5 separate regions of the Homo sapiens genome follow, and regions 1, 3, 4 and 5 are each reported to be linked to region 2. Evidence: microRNA targets listed by miRTarBase, many of them from high-throughput screens and not tested one by one. Region 2 holds a microRNA gene; each other region holds the end of a gene's coding sequence.

Region 1 (6,193 bases), not on the chromosome of region 2:
AGGCGTGAGCCACTGTGCCTGGCCTGTGTGCTTTTCTTTTTTGTGTGTGTGTGGTGGTGGTGGTGGTGGTGGTATTTTTTAGAGATGGGGTCTCACTGTGTAGTCCAGGCTGGTCTCCAAGCAATCCTCCCACCTCATCTTCTTGAGCAGCTAGGATTACAAGTGTGAGTCACCGCACCTGGCACCATATAATGTGATAAGCGCTCTTATCACATACACCACAGTCATATTGTGGGAATTCAGAGTGGAGGTCTGAATTGGAGAGTCTCTCCAAGGGACTTGATCAGCGGGGAAAGAAGAGTTGATGGCTTCACAGAGGAAACGACGTTTGAGATGAGTTTTGAATGATTAGGAGCTTTCCAGTCAAAGGAGGGAAAGGAAACCTCAAATTACCTTTGGCTCTTCCACACCCCACAACTCAGACATGAAGTCCTGTTGTAGGTTCTACATCCAAAATGTCTCTCACACCTGTCTCCTCTTCATATTCCTCTGCCACTGTCCTAGTCCTACAGGCGCCACTTGGGCTATTGCAACAGCTCCATAACTGGTCTTTTTTTTTAGAGACAGGGTCTCACTATGTTGACCAGACTGGTCTCAAAGTCTTGGGTTCAAGGAATCCTTCCACCTCAGCCTCCCAAGTAGGTGGGACCACAGGTGTGCCACTGCACCTGGCAGTACCTGGTCAATCTGTCTCAGTCTTCAATCCCCAATCCAGTCTCCATGCAGCTGCTGGCTGACCTTCCAAACACACAAGTTTGAAGGTATCACCCCCGTCATACCTTTTTTTTTTTTTTGAGACAGAGTCGCTCTGTCACCCAGGCTGGAGTGCAGTGGCATGATCTCGGCTCATTGCAACCTCTGCCTCCCAGGTTCAAGCGATTCTTATGCCTCAGCCTCCCAAGTAGCTGAGATTACAGGCGTGCGCCACCACACGGGGCTAATTTTTGTATTTTTGGTAGAGACGGGGTTTCACCATGTTGGCCAGGCTGGTCTCAAACTCCTGACCTCAAGTGATCCACCTGCCTCGGCCTCCCAAAGTGCTGGGATTACAGGCGTGAGCCACCGTGCCTGGCTTTTTTTTTTTTTTTTTTTTTTTTTTGTGATGGAGTCTCACTCACTCTGTCACTCAGGCTGGAGTGCAGTGGCGCGATCTCGGCTCACTGCAACCTCCACCTCCCGGATTCAAGCAATTCTCCCACCTCAGCCTCCTGAGTAGCTGGGACTATGGGCATGTGCCACCACGCCTGGCTAATTTTTGTATTTTTAGTAGAGACAGTGTTTCACCATGTTGGCCAGGATGGTCTCGAACTCCTGGCTTCAAGTGATCTGCCTGCTTTGGCTTCCCAAATTGCTGGGATTACAGGCAACAGCCACTGTGCCCAGCCAATTCCTGTCATATCTGTAGGGTATTTTTTGTCTGTTTTATTTGCCCCTTGCTGGAATGTCCCAATCCATTTTCCATTTGACCCTGTACATTCTCCCTGGCCTACTCCAGGAATCAACAGGAGCTTAGCTTGGTACGATTGTGTAGCCCCTTCTGCACCATAGGCCAGGTCTGGCATTTAAGTACTTTGGAATCAGTAAATGGAGCAAGCATTCCCCTCTAGCCCCCACTGTGTGCACCCAGGCTATCTGATTGAACATCTGAACCAGTTTGTGGTTGCCATGCCAATTCTCTATGGATACCACAGCTTGCTTTCAAACCCCAACTCAGCTGGCTGGAGGCCTTGATTACTCTCCTAGTTCATCTGCCTCTGTTCCTTTGCCCCCCAGCTCCTGGCATCTCTGTGCATAGACACCTCTAAAAGATCATAGACATTCCTAAAAGGACCAGTTCCATGAGATACAGCATGCAAGAGCTTCCTGTTACTATGCCTTTTCTGCCCCCTGATCAGACCCCTTGAATATTGACCCTTAAATGAATCATGCTCAGGTTTGCAACCTCTCTTGGACTTTGCTGTTTGGACTGGTGTCCACTCCCTGGGGGAGCCAACACTATTATTGCCAAATTGTTTTAACTAGCTTCAGCCTACCTGAACCAGCCTCACTCCTTTCTGGCTCATTGAGAATTCTAGCATGTCGTAAGGCCATGGTCTCAGTGCTTATGATACTATCTTACCTTACTTTACCGTTAGTTCATAACCAGCTTTTGAACACATCTTGTCTGATTCTCAAAAAAGTTCTGTGAAAGAGGTAGAGAGGTTATTATTAACTCTCTATTGGAGATGAGGAAACAGACCTGGAGAGGGTAAATATCACGTGTCCAAGGGGACAGAGCTCATCAGTGGAGAACGAGGTCTCCTAATTCCAGTGTCCTCTTCATAACCCAGGTCACTCAGCACATTGAATTTCTACTGCGTGGCAGAGAGCATGCCTCATTTGCCTCTGTGTCTCTCTCTTATACTCTTGTGACAGAGCCTGATTTGAAAAGTCAGTCTTGGAGTCAGTCTAACTCTGCCTCCTACCTCCCTGAGACATTGTGTCCACCAGCTCCCCTCAAGGTTCCTTGGGCCTGTTCCTACCTGGTTCATGGGACCCAAGAATCCTGTGTCCCCCACTTGGGCTGTAACACCCAGCCTGATAGCTTTATTGTCCCACCACTGCCCCCTGGAGAGGAAAGCCTTGATATAGAGTTGGAGCCTCTTTCCAAGGGGGATTGGTAGAATCTTTGAAGAGAAACTACATTTCTGATGTGATGGTGGGGGTTAGCATTTCTCAATGTGGAGAGGGCATGAGGTTCCCTGCTTCCGACCAGGACCAGGATGGAATTTTAAAAAGAAAATCTTTCTCCTGATGGCATGTTGTATGGAGAGGGGATGTGTTTGTTGTATTGTTGTGGGTGAAAAGGATGGATTTCGATAAGAAAAGGAATCTCTCTCACCGTGAGGGGGTGGGGACCTCTCCTCTGATGGAACATAATGTCAGTTTCTAAGGGGAAAGGAAATTTCTTGTAGGAAAGGAATGTTCCTCTTTTAAGGGAGAGGAAGCTCTCTCTCAGGGATTACTAAGTGTGGTGGAAAGGAATACTTACTCTCTCCTTTCTTTCTTTCAATTTTTTAAAAATAGAGATGGGAGGCCGGGCGCGGTTGCTCACACCTGTAATCCCAGCTCTTTGGGAGGCCGAGGCGGGCAGATCACGAGGTCAGGAGATTGAGACCATCCTGGCTAACACAGTGAAACCCCGTCTCTACTAAAAATACAAAAAAAAATTAGCCGGGCGTGGTGGCGGGCGCCTATTGTCCCAGCTACTCGGGAGGCTGAGGCAGGAGAACAGCGTGAACCCGGGAGGTGGAGCTTGCAGTGAGCCGAGATCGCGCCACTGTACTCCAGCCTGGGTGACAGAGCGAGACTCCGTCTCAAAAAAAAAAAAAATAGAGATAGGATCTTGCTATGCTGTCCAGGCTAGTCTTGAACTCCTGGCCTCATGCAATCCTCTTGCTTCGGCCTCTAAAGGTCTCATTTCCTTCCCTCCCTCCCTCCCTCTCTCCCTCCCTCCCTTCCTTCCTTCCTTCCTTTTCTTTCTTTGTTTCTTTCTTGACAAGGTCTCACTCTCTGGCCCGGGCTGGAGTGCAGTGGCGTGATCACAGCTGACTGCAGCCTCAACCTCCTCCTGGGCTCGAGTTATCCTCCCACCTCAGCATCCGAAATAGCTTGGGACTACAGGCACATGCCACCACACCTGACTAATTGTTTTATTTTATTTTTTTTGTAGAGATGGGGTCTCTCTATGTTGCTCAGACTGGTCTCAAACTCATGGGCTCAAGTGATTCTCTCCCCTTGGCCTTCCAAAGTGCTGGGACTACAGGCATGAGCCACCACATCCAGTCTTCCTTTTTTTTTTTTCTAAAGGAGAAATCTCAAATAAAGAAAACTTCCATGCTTTCTCTCCAAAGAGGAAAAACTGTCTCAAGGGAGAACAATTCACATGAGATTGTGTCTGATTTTCTCTCCCTTTCTGATATCCAGCACTTCCTACATGGAGTCCACATACTCTGAGAGGGAGTGGCAAATAATTTCTCCTGTTCGGAGGTAAGGAAGCTGAGGAGGCAAACTTGCCATGGGGGAAACTTTTACTCTGAGAGGCTATTTGTGGGGGCAGTGACTCTAAGGAAACCCCTGTGAGGCTGGGGGAAGATAATGCACTGTTACTTGGGGAAATCTTTCAGGAATCCCAGAAGCACAGAGTGTTGAAGGGAGCTGAGAGATGTGCTGGGCCAGTTCTCGTTTGCTCATAAGGAAGCTGAGGTTCGGGGAAGGGAATGCCCCGCTACTAAGTGACAGCATCAGGACTCCAGCGCAGCTTTTCCAAGTCTCAGCCTGGGGCATTTCCTACCACAGCTGACAGGGGAGGGTGATGCTGGTGAGGAAACTGCTGCTATGAAATGTTTGACCTGTGTGGAGGCATCTCTGGAGTGGGAAGCATTGATTCCTGAGAGAAGGAAACTGGGAAAGAGGATGAAATTAGGGGCTCTGTCCAGCTGAAAGGGGTCAGGGTCATCGTGCAACCCAACAGGTGGACTGTGGGACATCAGCTTGTAGGGGATGCTGAGTTTGGAGGGAGTAAGGAGATAGGTCTCCAGATGTGCGGGGGAGGGGCTCTCACCGAGGTACCCAGGGAATTGTGCCACTCTCTGGGGCAGGAGAAATTTCCCAATCATTTCTTGTCTCTTCAGAGGGAGTTGTCATTTTTAATCTTTTCAAAATCAGAGGAAGGAGGTATGTAAACTAAATCCCAATAAAGCTGTTATTAGACAATGAAAAAGACAAGAACCACAACAACAAAAGCAACAGGGAGGAATGGCTCCGGGGCTGGCTCTGCGGCCCAGAAGTACAGTGATTTCCTCATTTGCAGCTTCAGCTACTCAAGTAACTACTTCTTTTGCCCTGTTCCTTTCTTAATCAGTAAAAAACCAAGGCCAGCTCATCCTGGGGGAGGTCAGAGGTTGCAGGAGAAAGAACTTGACAAACACACAAGCCACCTCTTCATTTACTGTAAAATCCTGTTTAATGTGTAACATTTCAGGCAGAGAGAGGCCTTGGGGACTAGAGGCAGAGGTGGCCTTGACCAACCCCTGCTCCAACTTATCTGCCTGCTTCTCTCTCCCTAACTCCCTCACCCCAGACACCTCCTCCTTTTCCTTGTGGCCAGCAAGCACTATTCCTCCTTTACTAGTGCTGGCCACCCTCCCTTCTCCACCCACATGTCCACAGCACCCCTGCCCTCTGCTCCTCTTACCCACATCCCTCCTCACTGATGTGACTCCAGAAACAGGGTATCTGACAGCACAGGGTTAAGATTAGTTTCATAATTGGAGACGCTGTCGGAGCATCCCATCTCTTGTACCCAGTGGTCCCAGAGAGAGGGAGAGGGAAGAGGGAAGGGTGCAGGCAACAAGGGCAGCCCACACTCCCAGTAACCTTGAGCACTGGCATAGGTGGCCTCTAGCTCCCCACCCCTCCAGCTCCTCAAAAGGAAGGCCCCGGGAGGAAGGGAAGTAGCCAGGGAAGGAAGGTTTTGATCGAGTAATCCCCAGCAGGCAGAGGCCTGTGCACCGGCAGGGGAGAAGGAGGGGCTCGCCCAGGGCAGGGTCGGGGGTGGGATGGGAGGTTGCCTGGTATGTGGCATCAGCAGGCCGAGCAGCGGTCGCTCTTTTCAGCCAGCCCAGCCCCGGTGCCAGGGCTGCGGCGCAGTATGTCTTTCAGGGAGCCATCCTGCTCACTCAGCAGCTTGTTGATCTCATTCTGCTTGTATTCAGGTGAGAGGCGGTGGCCGAAGCCCGAGCCCTTGCGGGAAGGTGGATTGGAGCGGCGCTGGGCTCGGCGGGCACAGGCCCGGATGATGAGGTACACCACCTCGGCCACATTGAGGATGATGCAGATGCCAGAGGCAGCTAGCATGAAGACGGTGAAGACGGTTTTCTCGGTGGGGCGGGACACGAAGCAGTCCACTGTGTTGGGGCAGGGGTAGACGTCGCACTTGACCAGCCGCACCATGGCATAGCCAGGGTAGAGCAGATAAAAGACATACATGAAGACGGCCTCAAACAACAGCCGGAACACCACGCTGATGACATAGGTCCACCACAGTGTCCCTGAGATGTGGACCTTGTGCCTCTTCACCTCCTCCAGGTGTAGGGGGTCCCCATGGCCCTCAAGCCGTAGCATTTTCTTCTCTATGTGTTGCTGGTGAGCC
Region 2 (5,000 bases):
CATGGCAGTTTATAAAGTATTCTCAAGTCTGTTATTTGACCTAAGATCCAACATTATAATCGTACATTTAAGAGGTTACAATGTGAGAGGTACTCATTGAGCAGAATTTTCTAATAATCTAATCACCTTGCCGATTTGCACCCAGTGTCCATTTAGAAACATGAAATTAAGCTACTGGCACTCAATTGCCACATTGCTAGCATTTAATAAGGACTCCACTAGATGGAGGAACAAGGGCTCTCAAACCAAATAACCAACGACCACAAGCATTTCCTGTCAGACAAGCCAAGGTCCTGCTGGAGCTGCCTCTGAAGGCAGCCGGCTGATGGACAGGCCTGGTCTTCCCTCTGTGTGCCCCACTGCCAGGTGGCACCTTACCCTGCGCAGGCGCTCAGCCTGCGCGGTGGTACAGATGCTTCACTCACACTTGCCGGGGGCTAAAATCACAGCCTATGACCAACCTGGCCTGGGGTGTTCTGAGGTAGTTCCTGAACTCGGGATGCCTGTTACCTACTCTCTTTCAGAAGTCAGGACATGTAGGAAGTATTAAAATATCCATGCATCGCTTTCATCAATAATCACTGTAATTGAGTGCAAAATAAAGGAAACTTGAGTTGCTTTATTTAGCTTCCAATTTCTGGGAGGCTCAAGAATTATAAGTATTCTGGACAACAAAAGAAAATAAGACTGTGCTTACAGATCTTGTTCTGCCATATTCTTGCTTTAGGATTGCTATTTTATTGTTGCCCTTTCTGTTACATGGGATGTACACATCAGGTGTTAAAAGGTACAATACATTCTACAACTGAGCACCACTTTCTGTAACTGAACAGGCAAAGAAATTACACTGAACATCAGCATCTGGCAGTATTTTTTTGGAAAAAAAAAGTGACTAAAATGGGTTTAAATTGATTAACACTATTAAATCACATCTAATATTTGATACTACATGATTCAATACAGCTATACGATACAATTATACAAAATGTGTTAACATCAAAGAATACAACCAAAATTAAGATAGCAAACAAAACCTATATAACTTTTTTTTTTTTACAGGAAAATACTTTTGAAGTATGCATGTAACTGCCCATTCTTTTAAAGAAAATCTACTGCAAGCAAAGTTATCAACCTCCAGAAAAATCACACGTAGCATTACTAAGCATATCCCCAAAAAAGTGTACAATATGCACACTTGGAAAATACAAAATTAAAAAAATTGTAAGCAACAGGTGAGCTTCATATTTATAAGAATGTGAAAAGAAGTCCCATTTTTAGCACTGTTGTATAAAGAATTGTCTTTTGATGCGAAGTTCATGAATTGTCCTCCTGTTGGGACCACACTTTACAAAAACACTGTGTTTTTGAAACGAGATTACAGAGCAAGATAGAGCATCTTAGCAATGTCATCTTAGTAAAGTTTTTTTTTTTTAATTTTTACTACTTTATCAAAACATGTCCCTTAGGTGTGTAGGATTCATTTTTAAAATTCTTCCTAGAAATAATATACAAAGGAGAGGCATATTTATTCCCAATCACACTTCTGGAAGATGCTTCCCGTGGTCGAGAAGGGTCTTCTCTCTTCTTTTCACTGGTTGTTTTTGGCCTTAGCATGTGTTAAGATGTGAGATTTCAGGTTAGTTGACTGAGCAAACTTCTTATTACAACCATCGAAGGGGCACACATAGGGCCTGTCTCCGGTATGGATTCGCACATGTGTGCGCAAATTGAAGTCCAGTGAAAAGCGTTTCCCACAGCCTTCGAACGTGCACTGTCAAGGAAAGACCAGAGATCAACCCACTCAGCAACTCTGACCAGACCCTGGGAGTCAGGAGCTCACTGCTTTGCTAGAGAACAGCCTATTTATTTTACCAAACACTTTTCATTCCTGCCCTGGGTGAACTTTGTGGATATAGTCTAGAATCAGCAGGCAGGTTGGACAACCCCGAAAACCCAAGGAGAGCCCTCACGAACTGTTTAAAACACTTGGCAAAATGGCAAGTCTTCCTAAATGCAGGCTAGAGTCCTAGTGCTGCTGTAAACATTTCCAACAGTAAAATACAAATGATTAAGGGTTCTGGTGTCAGTTGTCAAAAAAGAACCACGTTAGATTTACTAGCTGCACTGCTAGTTCTTTCACTTATTTATGGGCTAAAGTATTACCTATACTTACACTCTAGAAACTTTATCAGTTAGTAATTATACTATTAACTACCAAAAATAAATTACTTCAATCCTGTAATGAATGAAGTAGAAATTGAGTTTTAGGTATGCTCTTCAATCCTGTTCTCCTCCTGCCATAAAGTGTACTCCATCAACACCAATACATTGCGTACCCAGTACCACAGAGTATAGACAAGGATGTCCAGAGCCCCGGCAACCCTTCTAAGCGACTCCCCAGGAGAAGTTTTGTTTCTCACCAAGGAGTAATAAGACCCTGAGTCTCTGGGCTGGCGCCTCCTGCCTCATCACCACACCACCTACACTTGCAGTGTTCAGACAGGCAAGGCAGTGTGGGGAAGAGAGGGAACTGGCTCTACCTGAAAGGGCTTCTCTCCAGTATGAACCAGTTGGTGTCGTTTTAGTTTTGAACTCTCAACAAAAGCTTTGCCACATTCTGCACAGACGTGGACTCTGGGACCGTGGGTGTGCAGATGTTTTCTCATGGCCGAGTTATCCCTGAACATCTTTGTGCAGCCCTTAAAACAGAGAAAGCAGCTTAGAAGTTCACATTGCAAACTGTTAGAAAGGATTCAACCATTTAACAGCCTTTACTGACATATTAAAACAAAACCACCTCCCCAACCCCCCATTTTAATTTTACTTAGTATTACGGTAGAACATTAATATCATTTAAGACAAAAAGCAGACAGCTGAAAAAGTCATCATTCAATGCAAACCCTAGTTTTACAGATGAGGAAACTGAGGCTTAGAGATGTCTTTAAGTAGACTTGCCCAAGGTCACACTACTAGTAGTAGCCAAACTGGGAATAGAACCCAACACCCTGGCTTCCAGCTCTACCACAGCCACCTCACCCGACTATGTCCCCCAAAATGAAGTAACAGAAGCACTGCTAAGCAAATGGAGTTAAAATGACGGTAGTCCACCACTACCTTTGGTGGCCCCATATTCTGTGCTGCAACAATGGACTGTCATTCTCCATCGCCTACTGTTCCCTCTTCTCTCTTTGCCTCTTTCCCCTTCTTGACAGAGAAAGAAGCAAGAGGGTCTCCAAGGAATGGCAACTACAGAAGAAATTTATTTTGTGAGACACTAGGAAAAGGAAGAAGCAGGCAAATTGATACCAGTGCAGGGCGGGAAAGGCAGATGGATGTGTGGCGCTCGAGAAGCATGTCCTCAACAATTTCTTCTGCAGTTGTTGCCCAGTAATGGAGTGAATGGGGAAATGATAAGACAGCATGACAGAAGGACAGCACAAGTCACTAGACAGCTCACAGGCAGAAGGGAGAGGGAAGCCCCAGTTTTTCCGCCTTTACCCCTAGGTTGAATTTCCATTTAGAAAATGGAAATTTAAAAAATTTAACTGGTACACAATGTATACATGCATTGAAACATCACACGGTACCCCATAAATATGTACAAGTATTATGTGTCCATTATAAAGAAAACTTCAGAGAAGCTAAAGGGATGGCATAGGCACTTCCAGCCTAACTGTTTTCAAATGCTTGTTATTTCGGCCCTAATGGAGATACGTTTACATTTCAAATCGCCACATCAAGAACGCTGACAAAGAACAGGAAGGACTTGCTAGTGCACAGTCATTACAGGGAAGAGACCGTGAAACTAAATGTAGCCTGCTCCGATTGTTCATTTTTAACATTCTTTATTCCACTCAATCTCTCCTACTTTGTTCTCTGTACCTATGTGATACTTGATTTTTCTGTTAGTCTCATATCCAATTAAGTTTGAAAATAGCCCCCAACAAATATCTCAAAAGTACTTTTCAGGTTATCCTTTTATTTTAAAGACTAACTACATTTGAAAACAATTAAGTGCCTCTCTAATCACACACAATTATTAAGTCTTTATTTGGCTTATTTTAGCAACATCCAAAATAATTTTCAAATTTCAGTTACAAGCCTACATTCCCATAAAGGTCAATAGGTGAGACACAACCCAGGATCTTAAGACGGACTTGTTAATATAATCCAAAAAGAAATGAAACGCTAACAGTAGAGTCAACACACAGTAATCAAGCAACGGCTCCCTGCAGTCATCCCATTTAACAGTATTTAAAAAGTTGCCTTTACTAAATAACAAAACTTCATCTCTTGGATTTAGAAACCGAAGATTCTAATTCCTTGCTTCATTTAAATTATCACAAGCAGAAACAAAAGTGCAAATTTCTTATAACTCTCTAAAACTTCATCAACAGTTTAATGAACACTCTCCCTCTAGCATTACTTACTTTATGAGGGCAAGCTATTGTTCTTGGAGCATCATCTTCTTTAATTTTTCTTGGCTTCATTCTTATCAAAAGAAAAAGAGAGACAGACAGATTTGTAGGAGTGGGTAGACTCAACTGGCATAAATCATATAGTCCCTAAAATGCTTTCCTTATAGGTACCCAAACTAAAATTATGATACATTTCCATGAAGCAGAAAGGATGAGACAACTTGCATTCACTAAGTACCAATGACTGTGAAGCACTCTTCCCATCTTACAGATAAGGATGCTCAGGCTAGAAACATCGAGTTGCCGCCTACAGTCTCATAGCTAATAAGCTGGTGCAGCTTAGAATGGCACTATGATCTGTGTGATTCACATACCTGTTCTTAACTCCAAACCCTTTAAAAAAACACAAAAAATCAACTCAGACAATCAGATGAATCTCCTTGTGAGAGGCAAGGGAAGATTTCCAAAGGCAGCTGCTGCGATGATGAAGGTGCCTTATGAAAAAGAAGCGGTGAACACAGGAGTGTCCTAAAATATCCATCTCTATACACGAAATGGGTCCAATTAGTACTGACACGAATG
Region 3 (6,263 bases), not on the chromosome of region 2:
CAAACAGGTAAATGTGGAAATTTAACAATATTCATTTTTTAAGATCTTATGCTTAAAAATACTATACCAAATACAATTTCATTTCTATTATGAAGATATTAACAAATTTAGAATATGATTTGCTTTTATTGTCACAAATAAAAAACCAAACATAAAATATAGTTTATGCTTGCAATTAAAAGAACATACTGGGCCAGGCGCCACGGCTCACGCCTGTAATCCCAGCACTTTGGGAGGCCGAGTCAGGCAGATCACCTGAGGTCAAGAGTTCGAGACCCGCCTGGCCAACATGGCGAAACTCCCATCTCTATTAAAAATACAAAACTTAGCTGGGCGTGATGGCAGGCGCCTGTAATCCCAGCTACTTGGGAGACTGAGGCAGGAGAATCGATTGAACCTGGGAGGCGGAGGTTGGAGTGAGCTGAGATTGCGCCACTGTACTCCAGCCTGGGTGACAGAGTGAGACTCCATCTCAAAAAAAAAAAAAAAAAGAAAAGAAAAGAAAAAAAGAACATACTGCTCAAAAGAGTAAGATTCAAGGTATTTCTAATGCTAAAGATACTTACAATATCAAGGTCAAAGACTTAGTAGAGAATGAATTCGTCTGAACCCAGAACCACAAACATGACCTTCTCAAGCAACAGCACTTCTTTTATGAGTTAGTGCTATTTTTGGATGAACATATTTTGTATAGCATCTATTAGTTTACAAAGTGCTACATCTCTTATAGTAGGCCCTTCTTATCCATGGGGAATATGTTCCAAGACCCCCAGTGGATGGCTGAAATCTTGGATACTACTGAACCCTATACTTTGTTATTTCCTAAAAAACACATATCTATGATAAAGTTTTAATTTATAAATTAGGCACATAAAGAGATTAACAACAATAAATAATAGAACAATTTTATAACAATATACTGTAATAAAAGTTATGTGAATGTGGTCTCTCTCAAAATATCTTATACTGTACCTTGGAAAGCAAGACTGTGGATAAGGAGGGACTTCTGTATACCATTTTGTTTGATATTCAACAAAACAGTGGAGGCAAGCCAAGCAGGTGATATTATCAAAATTTTACAGCTGCAACTCAGACAAATCCAGACTTTGGAAGGATCAGCATAAAGGATCCTTCTACCACAAGAACAAAATACTGCAAAATGAAAAAGGGAAGACAGACCGAATGATCAGAAGTATTCCTCAGAACTGATAATGTTAAATCATGTTAAGTAGTTTCCTAGTTATCAGCATAGTGAAGTAGGGAGGTGGGTAAGAAGTAGGGAAGTTGGCCAGGCGCAGTGGCTCATGCCTGTAATCTCAGCACTTTGGGAGGCCAAGGCTGGCAGATCACCTGAGGTCAGGAGTTCGAGAGCAGCCTGACCAACATGGAGAAACCCTGTCTCTACTAAAAATACAAAATCAGCCGGGCGTGGTGGCACATGCCTGTAATCCCAGCTACTCGGGAGGCTGAGGCAGGAGAATGGCGTGAACCTGGGAGGCGGAGCTTACAGTGAGCCAAGATCGCGCCACTGCACTCTAGTCTCCAAAAAAAAAAAAAACTGAAGTAGGGAAGTTAGGCCTTCTGAATTGATATCCCATCACTGTATGACAGTGTTAGCCAGCTTTGCTGTAAATATCGTACCATGCCTATCCAAGAAATGAGGGAAAGGGCAGGAGAGAAGGGGTAAGTCAGGTTCCAAAAGGTACAGTTAGCGGAAACTGTAGGGGGGGGAGTCCCTGTGGTCCCCAATAGAAGAGATGAGAAGGAACTAAATGAAAATGCAGAGATTCTGAAGATGTAACTGACCACTTTAATTTCCCCCAACTGAAAGATTTTGAAAATCAATGGTAAAACAGGACTTAGTAACAAGAGAATTTGCTGTACAGTAACTTGGCTAGAATACAGTATTGTGTATCTTAAAGAGTAAGAAACTTGGGGGAAGGATGAGGTGACTAAGAGCCTTGAAAATTGCAGGCAATTTGTCTTTACTACAGGCTTATTAATAAGCCAGGTCATTTTGAAAGTTGTACTTAGAGCTTTATTTCCAAAACAGACAATTGTAAATTCTTATTTTTCCTTCAGTTTCTTCAGATGATTCTGAATCACACATGAGTGAAGAAAAAAAGGAAGAAGATTTACTAAATAATTTTATGCAATCAATGTCAATTGAAGAACAGGGAGAACATCTGATGTTAACTTGACAGTCTTGTCTCGTGTATTGAATTCGTGCCAAAGGTGAGGGTAAGGGGTTGTGAGTTGTGTCCTGTATGTTTAGGATGGTATTGTTATTTATTAAATCATTAAGTAATTTTGGTTTGTTCAGAAACTTAAAACAATGTAATTGGTCTGATGTAGTTCCATGTACCAATGATAGTTATGTAAGAAAATTTACATGTAACATATACTTGTACTTCTAGCTAGATACAATTAAAACTTTTCTTGCATTCAATATTGAATTACTTTTCTTTAAATCTGACAAATGCATCGTATTTCTTCTTTCTGTGTTCATAGTAAGTCCTAAAACAGCAATATTAGAATATCCTACAAGGGCCAGGCGCAGTGGCTCATGCCTGTAATCCCAGCACTTTGGGAGGCCGAGGCGGGTGGATCATGAGGTCACGAGTTCGAGACCAGCCTGACCAACATGGTGAAACCCCCGTCTCTACTGAAAATACAAAAATTAGCTGGGCATGTTGGTGTGTGCCTATAGTCCCAGCTACTTGGGAGATTGAGGCAGGAGAATTAGAATTGCTTGAACCTGGGAGGCGGAGGTTGCAGTGAACCGAGATCACACCACTGCACTCCAGCCTGGCAACAGAGCGAGACTCCGTCTCAAAAAAAAAAGAATATCCTACAAGTATTTTTTTGATTGGGCTAAGGGAAGCTTGGAAATATCCAGATACAGAATAGCATTTGACAGAGATGATGCTCTGACTTGCAAAGTAGGTGATCAATAAATATTTGCTATTTGAATACAACTTTAAAATGTAAATACACATTTTCCCTATCTTATGAAATTACCACATAAATAACTTGGGACTCTCGGACTAGATTAGGTTGGGAGTAGTTACACTAACAAGAGGATTCTTTACGTTATATATTACTCTAGTATGCTTCCTTGCTAAATTTGTTTTTTTTTTGTTTTGTTTTGTTTTTTTTTGAGACGGAGTTATGCTCTTGTTGACCAGGCTGGAGTGCAATGGTGTGATCTCGGCTCACTGCAACCTCCAACTCCAGGATTCAAGTGATTCTACTGCCTCAGCCTCCCGAGTAGCTGGGAATACAGGCATGTAGCACCATGCTGGCTAATTTTGTATTTTTAGTACAGACAGGGTTTCACCATGTTGGCCAGGCTGGTCTTGAACTCCTGACCTCAGGTGATCCACCTGCCTCAGCCTCCCAAAGTGTTGGGATTAGGGTGTGAGCCACTGTGCCCGGCCCCTAAACTTGTATTTTTAAAACTTTTATTAAACCTTGAAAAATGGAAATAGCAACAGTTTGAAGAATCACTGTTAATGTCGGCATGGTATATTATTTAGCAAATAAAATCTGAGTCCAACATTATGACACAATGTAAGAGAAGAGCTCTGAAAGGTCATCTCGTCCACTTTAATATTTATATCCGTAGTTTCACTTGGTTCCTCATTTTTATGTTTTTTTTTAAATTAAATACAGGTTATCAAAGTATAAATGAAAGGTAATTGTTTATTACTGGAGAAGAGAAAAATGTATACAAGAAAGTCTAGATTCTTTCTCCACATGCACTACTTTTGGAATAAAGTTCCAAATATCAACTTTGAAGATACTTACAAGGATAAATTTTTCTTAACAAGTGACCAATTACTGTGTTGTGGACATTTTTTCATAGAATCCATATACTGTAAACTAAATATATTCTTATAGTTTACAGGAAGCTTGGAGCAATTATGTATTAACAGAGAAGATGGTATTATATTTTACTGCAAAATATTATAAAAGTGATACAATTTTGTGGCTCTTAAATGTTTAATTACTTGATTTCAACAGGACAATGAAAAAAAACCAAAAATCATCAAGACAGGCCTGGCTTTAAGGTTTTTTGTATTCGATTCGTTCTACTTTCACATCATCTCCAATTAGCTGATACACATAGGTGACCACTGTAGAAGCCTGGATATCCATCAACACAAATGATGGAATAATGTTTCTAGAAGAAAAAATAAATAATGTCAGTGTTTTGTAGCACAAAGCAGCAGCACTATAAATTTCAATTTAAGATGACTATTTGGATTCAGAGAAATCTGTTACATATCACATGAACAGTTACCAAAAGATTGCCAAAATGGCTAGATTTATTTAAATGGTCACATGTGGCTGGGCACAGTGGCTTACGCCTGTAATCCCAGCACTTTGGGAGGCTGAGGTGGGTGGATCACCTGAGGTCAGGAGTTCAATACCAGCCTGGCTAACATGGTGAAACCCCATCTCTACTAAAAATACAAGAATTAGCCAGGCGTGGTGGCGGGTACCTATAATCCCGGCTACTTGGGAGACTGAGGCACAAGAATCACTTGAACCCGGGAGACAGAGGTTGCAGTGAGCCAAGATTGCAACACTACACTCCAGCCTAGGTGACAGAGCAAGACTCTGTCTCAAAAAAAAAAAAAGTCACATTTATTTTTATTTTATTTATTTATTTATTTATTTATTTATTTATTTATTTATTTATTGAGTCTCCTTCTGTCACCCTGGCTGGAGTACAGAGCCTCAAACGTGGCTCACTGCAGTCTCAACCTCCTAGGCTCAAGTGATCATCCCACCTCAGCCTCCTGTGTAGCTGGGATCACAGGCATGCACCACCACACCCAGCTAATTTTTAAAATTTTTTTGTAGAGACAGGGTCTCACCATATTGTCTAGGCTGGTCTCAAACTCCTGGGCTCAAGCAACCTGCCCTGGTCTCCCGAAGTGCTGGTATTACAGGCATGAGCCACTGTGCCCAGCCACATTTCTTTTACGAAATGTCACACATGCAATTATTTTACTAAAGCCCCCAAATTCCCAAATTCTATACTACTCACGTTTCCAAGGCATTATATGCCCCAGTGGCAGAACCTGGATTAATGTAGAATTTATTTTCATGCTCAAATGCTTCAAATTTGTGTGTGTGTCCCGAGATAAGAATGTCCACATCAAATTGCCTCTGCAACAGGGCTAAGCTGGCCATATCTCCCCATGGAATAACTTGATGTCCATGGATCAGACCAATTTTGAACTGTCCAACAGTCACAACTTTCTGTTCTGGATAATTCAGATTCTAACATAAGAAAAAGACGTAAGAAAATATGTATTTTAGAGATACTGATGTTTAAAAAAATCAGTTTCCTTAAATATTCAATCTCCTATGGATGTTTTGATGTAGTACCCCACAACACACACATTTATACATTTTTTTTTTTTTTTGAGACAGAGTGTTGCTATGTTGCCCAGGCTGGAGTGCAGTGGTACCATCTTGGCTCACTGTAACCTCCGCCTGCCAGGTTCAAGCAATTCTCCTGTCTCAGCCTCCCAAGTAGCTGGGATTACAGGCACCCGCCACCACGCCCGCCTAATTTTTTTGTATTTTTAGTAGAGACGGAGTCTCACCATGTTGGCCAGGCTGGTTTCAAACTCCTAACCTCAAATGATCCACCTGCCTTGGCCTCCCAAAGCGCTAGGATTACAGGCCTGAGCCACTGTGCCCACCCCACATTTATAAATATTTTATTTCTTCTTGGTCTCCAAGGCTGCATCTATATTTTAAAACATAACTTACTCAATATAAACTGGAATTTATCATGCAACCCCTTTATTGTGTTTATTCCTATAGAATATGGGTTCTTTTGCGCATGCTGTAAATAATTATTCCCCCCAAACTTGTGATTTTCCTTTACCTAAGGCATGTAAGTTAGGGTGTGTTCAAATTATAGCTTAATGTAGCCTTAATACTTTTATAGATAGCTTAAAATAATGAGAGCTAACACTTACATAGTACTTAGTATGAGCCAGGCACTACTGTAGGGGTTTTACAAATATCAACTTAATTAATACAAACAATCCTAGAAGGTTCTATTATGATCCCCACTTTATGGATGATGAAACAGGCAAAGAGGTTGTTTGTCCTTTCATCTCCCCGTCTTTCACCTCCATGCCACCTTTAAATTTATCCAAACTCTTTTTAAAATACAATAAAAAGACAGTATGCCCCTTCAGTTTGGTTTAAGGAACCCCATTAAATAACACAAA
Region 4 (6,212 bases), not on the chromosome of region 2:
TCCTGGGGCTTTTCCTGTATGGGAGAAGTAATCCTGGTAGATGTCAGACTCATATTGTTAAAGCAAAACTGGATTGAAGTATTTCTTCCCTAACTTTGCCCACACATCCCTCAGGCACCAGGTTTTCTTTTGCACACATTTATTCTCCTTCTTTATCCTTTGAAGTGTGCCCTTGTCAGCCACTTAAATCAGTTGTCACCTATTAAAACAACCTATAGGACCAACGAAGAGGTCCTTCACCACCTAGGACAGTGTGTAATGATAGACTCACTTAATTGATCCATTGAGAGGTATGTGGGGGAACAATAGGAGATAAAGCTTCTGTGATGGTTTAAGCCAAGTTGGAAAGTTTCTAACTAAAGAAAGTCCCAGAGATCATATATCTTGAATAGAAAAGGGATCAGATCTTAGAATGCTGAGAAAAACTGGGAACCATTAATTTTGGCTCATTTCCTAAACTCTCTGGATTTCATAGAGCCACAATTCTTCTCAACCTGGGGGCACTGCTTCTGTCTCTGGAGAGATAGAAGTGCAGCTTCCGTAATTCTCAGGGTATGAGCTGCCTGGGATCAGGGGACCTTCATGGAAACGGCCACTACATGGGGAACCCCCTTCAGCTTTCTGAGACTTCTCTGGGGACCAGGAACCACACAATCCCCAGGGTTCCTGAGACCCCAGGCATAAACCTGAGACTTCCTCTGCAGCTGATGTGGTCCTGGATCCAGACACCGCTCATCCCGAGCTCTTCCTGTCAGAGGACCGGAGAAGTGTGAGGCGGGGCCCCTACAGGCAGAGAGTGCCTGACAACCCAGAGAGATTCGACAGTCAGCCTTGTGTCCTGGGATGGGAGAGCTTCGCCTCAGGGAAACATTACTGGGAGGTGGAGGTGGAAAACGTGATGGTGTGGACTGTGGGGGTCTGCAGACACAGTGTTGAGAGGAAAGGGGAGGTCCTGCTGATTCCTCAGAATGGCTTCTGGACCCTGGAGATGTTTGGAAACCAATACCGGGCCCTGTCCTCCCCTGAGAGGATTCTCCCTTTGAAGGAGTCCCTTTGCCGGGTGGGCGTCTTCCTGGACTATGAAGCTGGAGATGTCTCCTTCTACAACATGAGGGACAGATCGCACATCTACACATGTCCCCGTTCAGCCTTTACTGTGCCTGTGAGGCCCTTCTTCAGGTTAGGGTCTGATGACAGCCCCATCTTCATCTGCCCTGCACTCACAGGAGCCAGTGGGGTCATGGTGCCTGAAGAGGGCCTGAAACTTCACAGAGTGGGGACCCACCAGAGCCTATAGAATCAATTCCTTGGACTCACAGCCATGCAGATAAGCCCTGGCCATCTCAGCAGCCACCGCACAACCCCCCTAATGAAAGACACGCCCTCCTCCCCTCTGGTCACGTAAGAGAACATCTTCCAGCTGCCTTTTTCACACCCACTCCAGCCCTCTGCCCCAGTTTTCTCCTCCTCACTAGTCTGTGGCTTTAGTAGTTCCTTTGCTTGTAATTATGGGATGGGATCCAGGCATAGGGAACTAGTTGTTTCATAGCTCCCAGTCAAAAAGAAAGTGAGAGAAGCTGTTGGGCAGCGAACCTACTGTTTAAAATCAGGATAACCACATTAAGCCCAATATGCCAGTTGGCACCAGATGCTGTGGACTTGGAATGAGGCCAACAGGGTTCACCAGGATGAGAGAGGAGAGAGGAATCCACAGGACCACCAGAAGGGAGAGGGAACCAGATATGCAGATCAGAGATAGAGGAAGTGGAACCAGAGAGCTGGGAGGGACCAAGGTTGTAAGGATGGCTAAGTCCCACCATAAGAGCTAAAGGGTCCTGGGAGATGATGGCTCATTTCCACCCAACCCCAGGATTTCCACAGCACACACCCACAGGCCTGGACCTGGGATGAAGATGAATGAAGAACATGGACTCATGTGGATGTGGTTTGGCTCAGATGTCCCTGCAATAAACAAGGGGTCAGTACTTAGTCCCTGAGTGTGGTTGAGGTTTGAGGTCCTGGTCGAGCAGGGCAGTACTGGACCAGGTCTACGTCAGCATTCAGGTTCAATGGGGACACCAGTGGCTTCAAACTTCCTGATCTAATTATGTTTTTAGACACTTAGAAGTTATTGAGGACTTTAAAGAGCTTTTGTTTATTTGGGTTAATATTTATGACATTTGACATTGAAACAAAAATTTAAAATGTTATCTTTTAATTTATGTTAAAATAGCATTAATAAATCAGTTATAGGTTAATGTAGATAGGATGTTTTGTGAAAAAGCAATCTATTGTGTCCAAATAAAAAAACAAAAAGTGTGACACTGGTTAACTTTTTCCAGATCTCATGTCTGGCTTAATAAGAGATATTTGTATTATCATATCTGCCTTTGTATTAAACCTATTGGTATATCATAGGTCATGTTAGCTCAAAAAAACTTTACTGCACACTACTGAGAGAATGAGATGAAAAACGATTAATGTTTCATTATTATTATTGTGAAAATATTATTAACACTGGGGACTCCTTAAGAGTACATCAGAGTTCTCTCTAGGAATCCCAAAACCACATTTTGAAACTAGAATAGTGGATCCTGGAAGTTAATCCATGTGCTGGTTAATTTTAGATGTCAACCTGACTGGATTAAGGAATACCTAGACAGCTGGTACAACATTATTTCTGGGTGTGTCTGTGAGTGTGTTTCCAGAAGAGATTGGCAAGTGAGTCAGTGGGAAATTCTCTCCTTCTGTTGGCTGGGTGCCCAATACAACAAAAAGGCAGAGGAAAGGCAAATTCTTCTCTCCTCTGGAGCTGAGACACTCTTCTTCTTCTGCCCTTGGACATCAGAACTCCTGGCTCTCCGGCCTTTGAACTTCAGGACTTGTACCAGGAGGCCCTGGGTTCTCAGGCCTTTGGCTTTGGACTGAGAGTTACACAATCAGCTTCCCTGGTTCTGAGGCTTTCAGACTTAAACTGAGCCATGCTACCAGCATCCCAGGGTCTCCAGCCTACAGATGAGCTGTTGTGCGATTTCTTAGCCTCCATAATCACATGAGCCAATCTCCTTAATAAATGCCTGCTCATAGATCTGTATCTACATCTATATCTGTATGTGCATCTATATCTATGCCTATATCTATATCTATATCATATTGATTTTGTCTCTCTGGAGAACCCTGACTAATAAAATGAGGCATCTAAAATTCTAGCTTGAATGGTAGTATTTTAGGTTTTAGACAATTCAGTAATCCAGTTGGACTGAAAAAATTTAAGTAATCAAAAATTTTATTACTGCAGTTACAAATAGACACAATATTGAAAGAATCAGGAGTGATTTTTTCAATACCTGATTTGTAAAGATGGAAAGCAAGGTTGTTTGTGTTAATGTGTATGTCTTAGTCTATGTGGGCAGCTATAACAAAAATATCACCAAGACTGAATGGTTTGTAAACAACAGAAATTTATTTCTTGCAATTCTGCAGGCTGGGAAATCTAAGATCAACACCCCAGCATAATGGTGTGTGGTGAGGGCCCATAGACTTGTTCACATGCCAAAGGATAAAGATAGATCTGTAGGGTCTCTTTTGGAAGGACACTAATGACATTCATTAGGGCTCCCTCAACCTCAGAGAGAAAATAGAAGGAGGAGATTCCAAACTTCCTGCTGCTGCCCTGACCTGCTCCTGCCCCTCCTCATCTATTTTCTCTGATTTAAGAAGCAGGTATCCTTTCCCCTGTGTCAGGCTAATTCTCCATCCACACCCTGGACTCTCACTCTCCAGTTTCCCTTAGGACTTCTGTGTTCAGTTCATTCATTCATTCAACAAAAATCAATGAGTACTAACTACATGCCAATCAGTGTTCTTGGTACTGGGGGCAGAGAAGTGCACAAAGTGTAAAGTCCCATTCCTTATCATTGTAGAAGACAGAAAACAAAATAAGTAGTAACAGATATGGTGTGTTGGATGATGATAACTGCTCAGGAGATAAATAAATCAGGGGAAGGAATATAGGAAATCACAATTTCTAAAAGAGTGGTAATGAGCAATGGGAGTGAGGCACAGAATACCTGGGAGAAAAGCATTCTAAGTTGAGAGAACAGCAGTGCCAGAGCACAGAGGCAGAAGCACTGTGGTTTGTGTGAAGAACAGCAATGAGGCTGGGGTGGGCAGAGCACACAGGGTGATCAGGAGATTAGGAGGTGACAAGGCCAGAGGGGGTTGAGGGCCAGATCATATATGGCCTTGAAAGTCATCATGCTGACCTGGGCTTTACCTCTCAGAGGGGAGCCACAGGAAGGTTAAAGCAGAAAAAGGACTGGACTTACTTACATTTTAAGAAGTTACTTCACATGCTAGACTGAGATGGGCTGTGGGTAGGGGTGGTGGATGGAGGCCTGAAGACCCAGCTGGGAGCTACTGCAGTGATCCAGGGGAAAGATGCAGATGACTTGTACCAGGGAGGAGCCATGAAAATGTTATGATGCTGGATTTATTTTCAAGACAGAGTAAAAAGGCTTTGCTGATAAACTTACAGGTGGGGTATGAAAAAGGAGGGCATCAAGGGTGACCACAAGGTTTTGGTCCTAAGAAATGGTACAAATGGAGTTGCCACTTACTGAGATGAGGAAACTGAGGGAGAAGCAGGTTTTGGAGGCCAGGGGAGGAGCCAGCATAGAATCCAAGGTCAGTTTTGGATACGTTCAGGTTGAGGAGCTTACTAGAGATCCCCGTGGAGATGCAGAGTAGGCAGGTCAGTAATAAATGTGTAGTCCAGGCAACGGGTCAGGGCTGGAAACACAAGTTTTTCTCTTTATCTTCTTTATCTGCATGTTTGTTGTCATGCCTGTTTCACTTTAATGCATTAGTGATCTATTGCTGCATAACAAATTACCACAAACTTAGTGGTTTAAAACAGCACACATTTATCATTTCAGTTTCTGTGGGTCAGAAGTCCAGGCAGAACTTAGTGAGCTCCTCTGCTCAGAACTTCACAGAGCAAAAGTCAAGGTGTTGGCCAGGCTGTAGCCTCATCTAGAGTCTCGACTGTGGGAGAGTCCTCTTTTCAGATCACTCAGGTTGTTAACAGAGTTCATTTCTTTACAGTTGTAGGACTGAGGGCCCCAACTCCTTGCAGGCTGAAGCTGGAGGTTGCTCTCAGCTCCTACAGGCCTCCTCAGCTCCCTGCTGTGTGGATCCCCATGATGACTACTTTCCTCTTCATAGCCAACTAGGAAGACAGAGCCTCTAGAGTGGGTCAGCTAGCAAGAGAGAGTCTTACACTACATAGTGTAGTCATGGAAGGGACATCCCATCAGTTTTACCATATTTTATTGGTTAGCAGCAAGCCACAGGTTCAGCTCACACTCAGGGAAAGTACAGGCTGCAAACTGCAAGAGGAGTAATCATAAGGGGTCCACTCCAGACTCTATCGGCTACATCATATAAGAAGCTCAATGTTCTCCCATTGTAACTGCCCTGCTTCCTCTTTCCCTGGGCAATACAAACATGCTAACCTCTCTCTAGGTCTCTACTTTCATACAAGCAAAGTCTCAGAAAGAGAACACATACATGGCCATCAGGGACTGTCTGCCATCATGATGGCCACTGCTGTACCACACCATAAACATTGTTTGTTTTTTTCTTTCTTTCTTTCTTTCTTTTTTTTTTGAGATAGACTCTTGCTCTGTTGTCCAGGCTGGAGTGCAGCAGCATGATGTCGGCTCACTGCAACTTCTGCCTCCTAGATTCAAGCAATTCCCCTGACTCAGCCTCCCAAGTAGCTGGGATTACAGGCCTGTGCCACCATGCCCAGCTAATTTTTGTACTTTTAGTAAAGCGGGGTTTCACCACGTTGGCCTGACTGGTCTCTAACTCCTGACCTTAGGTGAACTGCCCGCCTCAGCCTCCTAAAGTGCTACATTACAGGCAAGAGCCACTACTCTCAGCCCATAAGCATTGTTTCTATCAGTTACTAATGGTTTCCCAACCATTAAATCCGTTACACATTTCTATTTTCCCCTCCCACCCCCGTGCTTTCCTTTTTAGAGAGACAGGATCTTGCTCTGTCACACAGGCTAGAGTTCAGTGGTGTGATCATCGCTGACTGCTGCCTTGATCTCCTGGGCTCAAGCGATCCTCCTGCCTTAGCCTCCCACAGTGCTGGGATTATAGCTGTGAGACACTGGGCCTCGCTTGTCATTATACACTTC
Region 5 (6,308 bases), not on the chromosome of region 2:
GGTGACAGAGCAAAACTCTGTCTTCAAAAAATAAAAAATAAAAAAAGGCACAAATAAAAAGGGGGAAAAAAAATGTAGTTTCAAACCCAGGTGTGACTACTTCCACCATACTGTATGTTAATACATTATAACTGGTTGCTGGACGCGGTGTCTCATGCCTGTAAATCCCAGCACTATGGGAGGCATAGGCAGGAGGATCACTTGAGGTCAGGAGTTCGAGACCAACCTGTCCAACGTGGCGAAATTCCATCTCTAAAAATATGAAATTTAGCCGGGCATGGTGGTGCGCACCTGTAACCCCAGCTACTTGGGAGGCTGAGACATGAGAATCACTCAAACCCAGGAGACAGAGGTTGCACTGAGCCAAGATCACGCCACTTACACTCCAACCTGGGTGACAGAGTAAGGCTCTGTCTCAAAAAATAAAAAAAAAGAATGGGTTTTGGGGGCAGGATTTTTAAATATTCTAAAGCCCAGGCCACGCCCCAGTCTAATTAAACCACAATCTGGGGTGTTGGTGGGGGATGGTGGACACATTGGGGAAGCTCCCCAATGATACCAATGGTGTAGATAAGTTTGGGCCCCACCACTACACATGCTCTTACATATTGCAAGTTAGGACACTGCTGCATGGAACATGCTTCAGCAGTGTCCTTCAACCAGACCTAATGATATAATACATTGTACCTTCAATCACTATGCCAGAGTAGTTCTACAAAACGAATCCATATGGGTAGGCAGAATGAACTTAAAGTTAACTGTACAACTGAACAAAAATTCACAATTACAAAACCTCTTAATTACAACACATTCTCAAGTCCTAAACTACGAATGTTTCAGGTCCACGTGTCCCATAACTATATATATATAGTTTTATATATATATAGTCTTATATATAGTTTTACATAGTTTTATAGTTTTTATATAGTTATATATGTAGTTATATAGTTATATATATATAGTTATACAGTTATATATATCAAGAGTCTCGCTGTCACCCAGGCTGGAGTGCAGTGGTACAATCATGGCTTATGGCCTCCGCCTCCCAGGTTCAAGCAATTCTCCTGTCTCAGCCTCCCAAGTAGCTGGGATCAGAGGCATGCACCACCACACCCAGCTAATTTTTGTATTTTTAGTACAGACTGGGTCAGATGGGGTTTCACCATGTTGGCCAGGGTGGTCTTGAACTCCTGACCTCAGGTGATCCTCCCGCCTCAGCCTCCCAAAGTGCTGGGATTACAGGCGTGAGCCACCATGCCCAGCCCCATAGTTAAATATTAAAACAATCACAGCTGTCCTCTGAGTCCCATCGTTTTAAGTGCAAGCATTCAGCCCTGCCTAAAGAAAGGAAATATTAAGTAGCAAAACAAAAACCAGAATCTGAAGCATCTCTGCGGCATCTGGAGGCTTTCACGGATTTTTCTATTGCTTGATATGTCCTGTCGTTCCCCTAACAGCCAAATAACTTTTATAACCTCAGGAAACTTAACTATCTAAAAGTTAAAATATCCAACTCTTAGTGATAATCATTTAAAAGCCCTAGTAACACATCCCTTATTGTGTAAGCCAAAATAAAAATCTCACTTTATAGAAATATTTCACAAGTGTGTATCCTTTCTACCCTAGTTATCATTTTTTTTTTATTTTGAGACGTAGTCTCACTCTGTTGCCCAGGCTGGAGCACAATGGCACGATCTCAACTCACTGCAACCTCCGACTCCTGGGTTCAAGCGATTCTCCTGCCTCAATATCCTATGAGTAGCTGGAATTACAGGTGTATGCCCCCACGCCCGGCTAATTTTTGTATTTTTTTTTTTTTAAGTAGAGACAGGGTTTCACCACGTTGGCCCAGGCTGGTCTCTAACTCCTGACCTCAGGTGATCTGCTGACCTTGGCCTCCCAAAGTCCTGGGATTACAGGTATGAGCTACCGCACCCAGTCTACCCTCATCATCTAGATTCAACTTAGTTTGCATGATTATGGAGCATGTATTTAGACTCCAGTATCAGATTAGGGATGATGACGGATGGGGTGTTAAAACAAGTTATTTAACAGATTCCTAAATTTAAAAGGTTTATATAACCACATTCTAACAGTATACATAAACACTAGCAAAAAAGGACAAAGTATTTTGGGGGAACCAGATCCTTTAACATACTGAATTCTGTTAATATAAATCTGATTAAGTCAAGCTGATTTTAGATTAACAATTTCAATAGAAATTATCTGCAGAAATATTCTAATCCTTATACTAAAATCAAGCAAATAGTTTTTGAAATGCTATTTTAAGTCATTACCTTAAGAATTTTGCTCATTAATTACATTTTATACCAAAATAAAATGAGAGGGGGGTGGAGAATTAGTGACAGGGACTTAAAAGGAACCAAGAAATTCGGGGGAATAATAGATTATGTTCACTTAGTTGTAGGTCAAAACACTGTAAACTGTATGTTTTACCTGTGTGTTCAAGTCAATTTATACCTCAATAAAGTGTTAAAAATAAAAAAGCTGCCAAAAAAATGAGTTTGAAACAGCCATATTTGCTTTTCAGACTTCCATGGCCTAGTTCTGAGTTCAGCAATTCCACATTAGATCTATAACTAGTTTCTGTGCTTGTAGGCTCTCTTTAAAACAATATGGTCCAAGCTGTTTTATCAGCTGCCCATTATTTAGACACCAAGCTAAAACTATGTTACACTTTTAACTGTTCTCTTAAATTACATGTATGGCTCCAACCCCTCATAACCAAGCTTATTAATGTCATTAACTTAATGCATAGAATAACCATACCACTGTACTTTACCATATTTATAAGGAGTAAATTACTAAACACATTCCATATCACAATGCATGAAAGCACAATAAACATGAGTTAACTGCTGGTAAATGGGAATTAAGGCAGAAAAAACTGAGTATAAGAAAGATGCCAAAAACCAAAACTACAGAATCTTTTCTGAAAGTAGAAAACACAGTAAGGTGGATCTCAAATGTAAACCACATTCCTCAGGTTCCTTCTAGCTTGTTTTTGGAAATACAGGTTGTATCTGATAAATTTCATTAATCTATTAAGCAAATAGTACAATCTAAGAGTCTCAAAGACATTCAATATGTGTTACCGATAGCTTCGTCAAAGCATGCTTTACATTCTCCTGTGGCTAATTCTAACTACATTTAACTTTAGCTGATTAGATTGAATTGTGACAAATTATATAGTGAAACCTTATTTTAAGTATAAGGTCTATTTAATATTTTATTACCATTCTAACTCTTCCTCAAGTTTTGTGGGAGTGTGCTAGTGTGTTGTTTTTAATTTCCCCATCACCATCAGTCTCAGTGGGAACAACAACAAAAAAAAATAACAGTTTCTGGTGAAAACTGGGGAGTCCAGGTAGGGTATTTATGCAGAAATAGCAAAAACACTGCAGCCATCTGAGAAAACACTTTTTAAAAAACAACAAACACTTAAGATTAGATCTGACATAAAACCTCAAGTATTTTTGCTCTAAGATTATGCTCTTTACATAAGTTAGAATATATTTAAACATAAGGGGGAGCTAAAAGCAAATGGGGGTAAACAAACCAGAAAAATCAAAATACAAATATACACAGAGCCAAAATAGTATTTCCGTCAGCAGCAAAACAGAAACAATTCCAAAATTAATGTGCAAATGAAAATAAAGTAGTTAACAGTCATTCATTTAATAAGCTTGTGTATTTGATAATGAAAACGCTTAGCTTTCCTTTTCTGACCTCGGAAAAGTAATCACCATCTTTAGTAAGGTATTACTTTTAAAAGTATGACTTTAACAAGTGAATAAAGCATGTTTAGAGTATGTTTATGTTTAGAAACAATACCTTGAACACTACAGAAAACAACAATATTCTGAAAATCCAGTTTATTTTCCATGTCGTGGACAGATCCAGTCAGTGTGATCAGTTTTTCTGCGTGTGTAATAATTTATCAAAATAAGTTTTCTCACAAGACTCTTTTCCATCAACTCTGAAAACCCTGGTCTGACAACATACCCCAATAAAGCTTTTGAAAATCACCTCTTAAAATTTGGAAGAAAATGTGCCAAGTCTTTTCCTGTAACATTTACTGCACTACAAATGGCTAAAGAGCAATTTATGGTTTAAAAGGTGAATAGTACAACAGGTGAGTTCAGGAAATTGTTTTAGTGCACTTTGCTCCAGTTTTAGCCAACATGCTACATTTTCCTTTTTGGTTTTTGTTTTGTTGTTGTTGTTTTTTGGGGGAAGGAGAGGGAGACCGCACAAAGTGGACTTGAGGATTTCCATTGTACGAAAAAGATATGACTCTGCAAGCAAAACAGTGTAAGCTGCCTTTTTTCTTAAGACCTGGACATTTTAAGACAGAAGCTTTGCAAAACATTACACAATTTTTTATTATTAAATGAGAAAATCTCATTTGTTACATCGTCACATTGCTAGTCAGAGAAATGTTGCAGTGATGAAGAAAGTCAATGTTGGACCAACCCAAGTCCTCATTCCTACAACATTCATTTACAAAGAAATAATGTTCAACACAGCCCAACAAAACATTCTTGGTTTTCTTCATATTGAAGTCCCCCAAAAAATCCTCTTCTAATGGGGTATTTCACTACATAAATTATAGTTCTTCATTTTTACAATTCACCCCAAACTGTATGAGAGATGTATCACACTAAGATTTCTAAAGCTGTTAGGAAATCCTTCACACATCGTCGTCATCTGATGTATCACTGCTACTTGTCTCTGTGTCATCATTCTCAGTTGTGGGTTTGAAAGTGCTGTTCTTCCACGGTCCAAACTTGAAGTCACAGATCAAGCCATTTTTCAAAATACCATTTTTTCTCAGACCATTCTTCTGTAACTAAAATGTTAACAGCAAAATAAATAAATTATCCCTCAAGAGTTACAAACCTACTGTAATAATATAAGCATGAATATAATAAAATTGTATCCTAACCCAAAAACTACACAAGTAATGATATTTCTGAAAAAATTCTGGATCCAGACAAAGTAGATGTGAGTAATAATTGTCACACTGATTAAGGTACTAAACTTTCCCACATTTTTATTGCCTCAAGTGACAACTGTAATAAATACCTTCAGGGACTTACCAGAATATAATCAGAAACCATTAAGCTGTATCTGTTATTTTTATTATTCTGACCTAAATTAATACACCCCCCAATCTGCTTTGTTCATAGTTTGTAAAGTAGAATGAGGTATATAAAGTTACAAAATTGTCTCGTTTAACCGGAGATGAAGATACTAGAAAAAATACAGTTCTCTATTTCTGAAAATGAGAAATCATAACTAAAAGGTTGGTAATAAATAAGAATTGAGTCAAAACATCATCAAAGAAGAAAAAAGATAGTTGGCCCAAATTAGAAACAATTTAAAGACAGAAAATAAGCCCAGTGTAGTGGCACAAGCCAGTAGCCCCAGCTGCTCAGGAAGCTGAGGCAAGAGTATTGCTTGAGCCCAGAAATTTGGGGATGCAGTGAGCTATGACCAGCCACTGCACTCCAGCCTAGATGACAGAGTGAGACCCCAACTCTTTAAATAAACAAATAATCGATTTGAAAAAAAGCATCTCAACTTCCTGATGCTCTAACAAAAATTCCCTAATACTCTTTCAGAAAGGTAACTAGGGAGACATTAAGCAAGATGTTTTAGAATATGAAATACTCTTGTGCAAGAAAAGGATAAAAGATGAAGTTACTTAGGAAGCTACTAACACTCTCTACTTCTTATCACTCTTGCTCCTCCCCCAGAAAAGCCAAAAACAAAAACAAAAAACAAAACAAAAAAGGTCTGGAAAATGACTAATCCATAGACATCACTTACACTAATTCCTAACTATTGCACACCCAATAGTTTAAATAAGTCACTATTGCAGACTTCTATAAAGTCAATTCAACCAGGTGCAGTGGTTCCTGCCTGTAGTCCCAGTTACTCCAGAGGCTAAGGTTGGAGGATCACCTGGCACCCAGGAGTTCTAGAGGCCAGCTGGACACCATAGCAAAAGCCTGTCCTCCCTCTTTTTTTTTTTAAAAGCAATTCTGACCTATCGTGATAAATTCCTAAATCTCCCCCACTCCATGCTTACATATAATTATATTGTTCTAAATAAGGGCAGTTTAAAAGTGAAGTTGTATGATTCAGGTTTTCTTACCTGTTCACTAATAACTTGGAATTCTCTCATTTCATCCTCAGTTAAGGGAGCACATGTTTCATCATTTTCACTGTCTTCCTGCCAGCCCATTTCCTTTAACAATCTGAAAAGGAGAGGAAATTAA

The links. Region 2 holds the annotated microRNA hsa-miR-6764-5p (UCCCAGGGUCUGGUCAGAGUUG, at 1,806-1,827, opposite strand). A microRNA usually pairs through its seed, bases 2 to 8, with sites in the 3' UTR of a target mRNA and lowers its output. Matches are read on the target gene's strand: a 7mer-m8 pairs with bases 2 to 8, a 7mer-A1 pairs with bases 2 to 7 and ends in A, and an 8mer does both.
Region 1: the mRNA of GJB1 is a reported target of hsa-miR-6764-5p. Seed matches in the 3' UTR shown: 7mer-m8 at 5,578-5,584.
Region 3: miRTarBase lists FAM216A as a target of hsa-miR-6764-5p. The part of its 3' UTR that is shown has no 7-base or 8-base seed match.
Region 4: the mRNA of BTN2A2 is a reported target of hsa-miR-6764-5p. Seed matches in the 3' UTR shown: 7mer-A1 at 1,835-1,841, 7mer-A1 at 1,902-1,908 and 7mer-m8 at 2,896-2,902.
Region 5: miRTarBase lists GPBP1 as a target of hsa-miR-6764-5p. The part of its 3' UTR that is shown has no 7-base or 8-base seed match.

Annotation. Positions count from the first base shown.
Region 1 is chrX:71,223,992-71,230,184 of GRCh38, reverse strand. GJB1 (gap junction protein beta 1) reads right to left here. Exons shown (of 2, transcript NM_000166.6): 2 at 4,669-6,193. The coding sequence ends at 5,626. Among named protein-coding and RNA genes, the nearest start is that of GJB1, 3.9 kb to the right of the region's middle.
Region 2 is chr14:100,274,189-100,279,188 of GRCh38, reverse strand. MIR6764 (microRNA 6764) reads right to left here and starts at 1,832; the gene lies at 1,772-1,832. It overlaps YY1 (YY1 transcription factor), which reads right to left. Exons shown (of 5, transcript NM_003403.5): 3 at 4,431-4,491; 4 at 2,541-2,699; 5 at 1-1,771. The coding sequence ends at 1,589. It also overlaps a transcript of SLC25A29 not described here. RefSeq lists an enhancer at 1-856.
Region 3 is chr12:110,487,937-110,494,199 of GRCh38, forward strand. FAM216A (family with sequence similarity 216 member A) reads left to right here. Exons shown (of 7, transcript NM_013300.3): 6 at 1-7; 7 at 2,083-2,449. The coding sequence ends at 2,201. It overlaps VPS29 (VPS29 retromer complex component), which reads right to left. Exons shown (of 4, transcript NM_016226.5): 3 at 5,060-5,295; 4 at 3,147-4,186. The coding sequence ends at 4,069. It overlaps LOC124903016 (a long non-coding RNA gene), which reads right to left and starts at 1,357. Exons shown (of 3, transcript XR_007063459.1): 1 at 973-1,357.
Region 4 is chr6:26,391,671-26,397,882 of GRCh38, forward strand. It overlaps BTN2A2 (butyrophilin subfamily 2 member A2), which reads left to right. Exons shown (of 8, transcript NM_006995.5): 8 at 705-3,204. The coding sequence ends at 1,297. Among named protein-coding and RNA genes, the nearest start is that of BTN3A1, 7.5 kb to the right of the region's middle.
Region 5 is chr5:57,261,159-57,267,466 of GRCh38, reverse strand. GPBP1 (GC-rich promoter binding protein 1) reads right to left here. Exons shown (of 12, transcript NM_022913.4): 11 at 6,185-6,287; 12 at 2,794-4,873. The coding sequence ends at 4,715. Among named protein-coding and RNA genes, the nearest start is that of GPBP1, 90 kb to the right of the region's middle.